Linked DNA regions of Homo sapiens: region 2 is linked to region 1. The links come from fine-mapping of genetic effects on gene expression. A gene starts in region 1. The other region holds a variant in brackets. All regions are shown on one strand. Distances are between the middles of the regions. Region 1 holds the start of MYO1F (myosin IF). Region 2 overlaps MYO1F (myosin IF).

The links.
Region 2: its variant is fine-mapped to the expression of MYO1F in whole blood (TOPMed, PIP above 0.99).

The regions. Positions count from the first base shown.
Region 1 is chr19:8,575,924-8,578,826 of GRCh38, reverse strand. MYO1F (myosin IF) reads left to right here and starts at 1,385. Exons shown (of 28, transcript NM_012335.4): 1 at 1,385-1,520. The coding sequence starts at 1,518. RefSeq lists silencers at 1-53, 1,274-1,423, 1,961-2,010 and enhancers at 2,131-2,310, 2,481-2,540, 2,881-2,903.
Region 2 is chr19:8,519,681-8,522,583 of GRCh38, reverse strand. It overlaps MYO1F (myosin IF), which reads left to right. Exons shown (of 28, transcript NM_012335.4): 27 at 38-207; 28 at 980-1,806. The coding sequence ends at 1,056. Among named protein-coding and RNA genes, the nearest start is that of ZNF414, 7.0 kb to the right of the region's middle. The variant G/C (reference allele first, on the strand shown) is at 1,242.

The DNA of each region.
Region 1 (2,903 bases):
ATCTGAACATGGGTCCCCCAGGGTCTCCCAGGGTCGGGTCCTGCCTCGGCCACCTCCTTGCTGGGTGGTGTGGGGAAGTAACAACCTATTAGAACTGCCATTTCCTCACATGTCAAGAGGAGCCTCAGGTGGTTGGCTGGTGTCCCAAAGACCAGCTCATAGGCTGACACGTACCTGGGCCAGGCTCTGCTGGGGGGACCCACGTTCCCATTTTACAATGAGAAAAGGGAGTAACTAAGTCATCCAGGAAGTAGCCAAACTGGAGGCTGTTAAATCTAGATGTGACATCCAAAGTCAGGGACCTTTCAGATGCACCTGCTTCCCAGTACCCTCCACTTCTGCACACAAACACGTGTGACTTCTGAGGGTCATCTAAAGAGGGAGGTTGGGCCAGGCGTGGTGGCTTATGCCTGTAATCCCAGCACTTTGGGAGGCCGAGTTGGGAGGATCACCTGAGGTCAGGAGTTCAAGGCCGGCCTGGCCAACATGGCGAAATTCCGTCTCTACTAAAAATACAAATATTAGCCAGGTGTGGCGGTGGGCACCTGTAATCCCAGCTACTCAGGAGGCTGAGGCAGGAGAATCGCTTGAACCCAGGAGGCGGAGATTAAAGTAAGCTGAGATTGCACCACTGCATTCTAGCCTGGGTGACAGAGCTAGACTCCGTCTCAAAATAATAACAATAATAATAATGAAGGAGGTTGCCCAGGGATGCCCAGAGCAGACACAGCTGAAGAAGGCACCCTTCCCTGTTGTTGTTGTTTTTTTGGTTTTTTTGTTTTTTCTGGTTTGTTTTTAGAGACAGGGTCTCACTCTTTCGCCCAGGCTGGAGTGCAGTGGCGCAATCAGGGCTCACTGAGGCCTCCACCTCCCAGGTTCAAGCAATCCTCCCACCTCAGCCCTCTGAGTAGCTGGGACTGCAGGCTCATGCCACCATGCCCAGCTAATTTTTTTTCTTTTCATTTTTTGTAGAGATGGGGTCATGCTATATAGCCCAGGCTGGTCTCAAACTCCTGGACTCAAGCGATCCTCCAACCTTGGCCCCCCAAAGTATTGGGATTACAGGCGTGAGCCACCTCCCCTGGGCCCCTTCCTTGGTTTTAAAAAGAGACCCGGGAAGCCCAAATGCTTCCTGAATCGCCCTGAAAAGAGGTGGTTCGTCCTGCAGCCAGCTGACCCAAATGTTCCTGCAGCAGCCCTGTCCCCAAGGAGTTGGGGAAGAGGCCTCTGAGGTCCAGTAGTGGCTGCCATCAAGTTCTGACCCCTCCCTTCAGGCTCAGAGCCCCAAACAGCCAGCTCCCCGCCCCCCTCCACACCCAGCTTCCCTCCCCCATGGCCTCGGCCCCTCCCGCCAAAGGAAGTGAGAAGGGGCTGTTGTAAGAGGAACTAAAGCCGGGAGTCCGGTGAACGGGCAGAAGCAGGGCCATGCCCAAGCCACCCCCAAGATCCCCCTGAACCTGCACCTCCATCACGACCCATTCAGGAGCCTCCAGGAGCCCAGACACCAGCCCCCCACCATGGTAAGTCCTTCAAGGGTGGGATCTGGAAGAAGAAAGAGGAGGGACACCAGCCAGGTGGAGGTGTCCTAAAAATGACCATCAGAAATTGGGGTGAGGGGAGGGGCATGGTGGACTTCTGTGGGGGTGGGGTGTCTCTCAGTGCAGCTCAGGTGCCTCCAGCATCCCTTACCAGGGAGCAAGCTCCCATCTGTAGGTGGTGGGGATGCCAGGGTGGTATCCCTGGATCCAAGGATAGGGCAGGACCTGGAAGACAGAAGGTGGCCCAGGGAGAATCACAGAGTCTGCAGGGACAAGGACATAGCCTCCTTTGCTTGCAAATTAAGGGAGCCCTTTCCCAGTCCAGCCCAGTCTCTCGTCTCCCTGTGTAGCCTTGGGCTAGTCACTTCCCCTCTCTTGGCCCCGGTTCCCACAGATGTCATATTTGGAAATCCGTCTAGATGCGGAAGTTGCTCTTCAGGGGTCTTTCAGTTGCAACATTCTCAAGGTCTGTGGGTTCTGCCACAGAGTCCTCGGCTGAGATGGGAAGCTATGTCTAACAAGCGATGGGGTGGATTGACGCCCTCCCTGTGCCGGTGACGGGCGGTATGGCTGCAGCAGAGGCAGGAGAGGCTGAATACGTCCATGCCACCCTTTGGTGGGCATCCCTTATCCCAAGAGGAGGATGGCAGCCAGAGGTGTTGCTGCCTGTCAAGTCTGAGGTCTGTCGATGATAGCAACGGGGAGACTGTCGTGATCATGGCGCTATTCCTAGCAGTATCGTACCACCATAAGACGCAAAGTAAGAGGTGGCCAGGGCTGACCCCACCCCACAGCTCTCTGCTGTGTAGACCACTTCAGCTTTCATTTCTCGTCATTCAGTCAGTGAGGATGAGAGCATGTGGCTGTGACAGCGGCCACTGCAGGATTCTTGGCAGGTACAGCTTACTAGGGTGGAGTCAGGGACATAGGGCAAGAGGCAGAGGTGGTGTTAGTCTGAGAGACAACACCTTCTTTCAGGAAGCCAGTGAGGGCCAGGGACAGTGGCTCATGCCTGTAATCCCAGCATTTTAGGAGGCTGAGACAGGTAGATCACTTGAGGTCAGGTGTTCGAGACCAGCCTGGCCAACGTGGTGAAACCTCGTCTCTACTAAAAAATACAAAAAATTAACTGGGCGTGGTGGCACACGCCTGTAATCCCAGCTACATATGAGGCTGAGGCAAGAGAATAACTTGAACCCAGGAGGCGGAGGGTGCAGTGAGCTGAGATCCTGCCGCTGCACTCCAGCCTGGGTGACAGAGCACACTCCGTCTCAAAAAAGGAAAGCTGATGAGAAATTGGGCATCCCGGAATTCACACCCAAACCATCAGCTGGAGCTCTGAGACTGTTGGGGTGGGAATTCTTC
Region 2 (2,903 bases), 56 kb after region 1:
TGTCTGGGGCTGTGACTCAAACCCCCTGTGCCCACAGCATGCAGAGGAAGCGCAGCGTGGGGCAACGGCCAGTGCCTGGTGTGGGCCGACCCAAGCCCCAGCCTCGGACACATGGTCCCAGGTGCCGGGCCCTATACCAGTACGTGGGCCAAGATGTGGACGAGCTGAGCTTCAACGTGAACGAGGTCATTGAGATCCTCATGGAAGGTGTGTGTACCAGGGCAGAAGCTGGGGTGAGGGGAGTGGTAAGAACCCTGACATCGGCCGGGCGCGGTGGCTCACGCCTGTAATCCCAGCATTTTGGGAGGCCAAGGCGGGCAGATCACGAGGTCAGGAGATCGAGACCATCCTGGCTAACACAGTGAAACCCCGTCTCTACTAAAAATACAAAAAATTAGCCGGGCGTGGTGGCGGGCGCCTGTAGTCCCAGCTACTCGGGAGGCTGAGGCAGGAGAATGGCATGAACCCGGGAGGCGGAGCTTGCAGTGAGCCGAGATTGCGCCAACACACTCCAGCCTGGGCGATAGAGCGAGACTCCGTCTCAAAAAAAAAAAAAAAAAGAACCCTGACTGACATTGCCAGGCAGACCCCACCACTGCACACCCTCCCCACGGGAGAACAGAGATAACAGATGGGCGAGGTGGCTCATACCTGTAATCCCAGCACTTTCAGTGGCTGAGGCAGGAGGATCACTTGAGGTCAGGAGTTTGAGACAAGCCTGGGCAACCTAGCAAGACCCCATCTCTACAAAAGATTTACAAAAAAAAAACTTTTAAAGAGTAGAAATGGCCGGATGCAGTGGCTCACACCTGTAATTCCAGCACTTTGGGAGGCTGAGGCAGGAGGATGGCTTAAGCCTAGGAGTTTAAGACCAGCCTGGACAACATAGGGAGTCCCCATGAACAAGATGGACAGACCAGGCATGAGAGCTTTCTCCAGGGCCAGCTAGGGGCACCTCAAGCTTTCCTCTCTCCCACAGATCCCTCGGGCTGGTGGAAGGGCCGGCTTCACGGCCAGGAGGGCCTTTTCCCAGGAAACTACGTGGAGAAGATCTGAGCTGGGCCCTGGGATACTGCCTTCTCTTTCGCCCGCCTATCTGCCTGCCGGCCTGGTGGGGAGCCAGGCCCTGCCAATGAGAGCCTCGTTTACCTGGGCTGCAATAGCCTAAAAGTCCAGTCCTTTGGCCTCCAGTCCTGCCCAGGCCCTGGGTCACCAGGTCACTGCTGCAGCCCCCGCCCCTG[G/C]GCCCTGGTCTTCCTCCAACATCACACCTGCTGCCCATTCTCCATTTCTGTGTGTGTCAAAGGGGACTAACAGCAGAATCTACCTCCCAACTGCCATGTGATTAAGAAATGGGTCTTGAGTCCTGTGCTGTTGGCAAAGTGCCAGGCACAGTTGGGGAGGGGGGGGTCCTTAACAAGCGTGACTTTGCTCATTCTGTCATCACTAAGGCAATAAACCTTTGCCAGGTGAAAGCACGAGTTAACTTACTAAGTGCCCAACAAGGACGATGTTTTCACAGCCCTGTGAGGTAGGAGCTGTGAAGGACCCCATCTTACAGGTGGAACAATGGAGGTTCAGAGAGGTTCACTGACCCAAGACTGCACAGAGCCATGCCTTGCATTCATATGTGACCATAAAGCTTGAATTTGTCCCAGTTTGGGCTGGGCGCAGTGGCTCACGCCTGTAATCCCAGCACTTTGGGAGGCTGAGGCGGGCAGATCACGTGAGACCAGGAGTTCAAGACCAGCCTGGATAACACAGCAAAACCCTGTTTCTACTAAAAATTTAAAAAAGAAAAAAAAAAAAGCCGGGTGTGGTGGTGCCTGCCTGTAATCCCAGCTACTGGGAAGGCTGAAGCAGGAGAATCACTTGAACCCGGGAGGCAGAGGCTGCCGTGAGCCGAGATCATGCCACTGCACTCCAGCCTGGGCAACAGAGCAAGACCCTGTCTCAGAAAAAAAGAAAGGAAGGAAGGGAGGGAGGGAGGGAGGAGGTGGGCGCGGTGCCTCACACCTGTAATCCTAGCACTTTGGGAGGCCGAGGCGGGCAGATCACAAGGTCAGGAGATCGAGACCATCCTGGCTAACATGGGGAAACCTTGTCTCTACTAAAAATACAAAAAAGTAGCCGGGCGTGGTGGCGGGCGCCTGTAGTCCCAGCTGCTCGGGAGGCTGAGGCAGGAAAATGGCATGAACCTGGGAGAAGGAGCTTGCAGTGAGCCGAGATTGCGCCACTGCCCTCCAGCCTGGGCAACAGAGCGAGACTCCATCTCAAAAAAAAAAAAAAGAAAGAAAAGAAAATAAAGAATTTGTCTCAGTTTCCCTTCCAAAATCTGCATCCCAAATGGTCCAGCAGGTCCTGTTAGTCTTGAAGCTACAGCCGCCAAACCCATCTGGGACCTATGGAGAGAGGCAGGTCCCACATGCCACATGCTCCCACCCTCAATGCACTCTGGGTCACTCCTGCCCCCTGCACCCCAATCCCATTTCTGTGCCCTCTTAGTCTTCACCTAACTGGGACTAAGACTGGAGTCCTGCTATGGTCTGAGCCTAAAGATCCTGAATTTTGGGCTGGGCGCAGTGGCTCATGCCTGTAATCCCAGCACTTTGGGAGGCCAAGGCGGGCGGATCATCTGAGGTCAGGAGTTCCAGACCAGCCTCACCAACATGGTGAAACCCTGTCTCTACTAAAAATACAAAAATTAGCTGGGCATGGTGGCACGTGCCTGTAGTCCCTGATACTTGAGAGGCTGAGGCAGGAGGTGGAGGCTGCAGTGAGCCAAGACTGCACCATGGAATTCCAGTCTGAGCAATAGAGTGAGACTCTGTCTCAAAAAAAAAAAAAAATTCCTGAATTTTGGGAGTGGTGGTGCATGCCTGTAGTCCCAGCACTTTGTGAGGCCG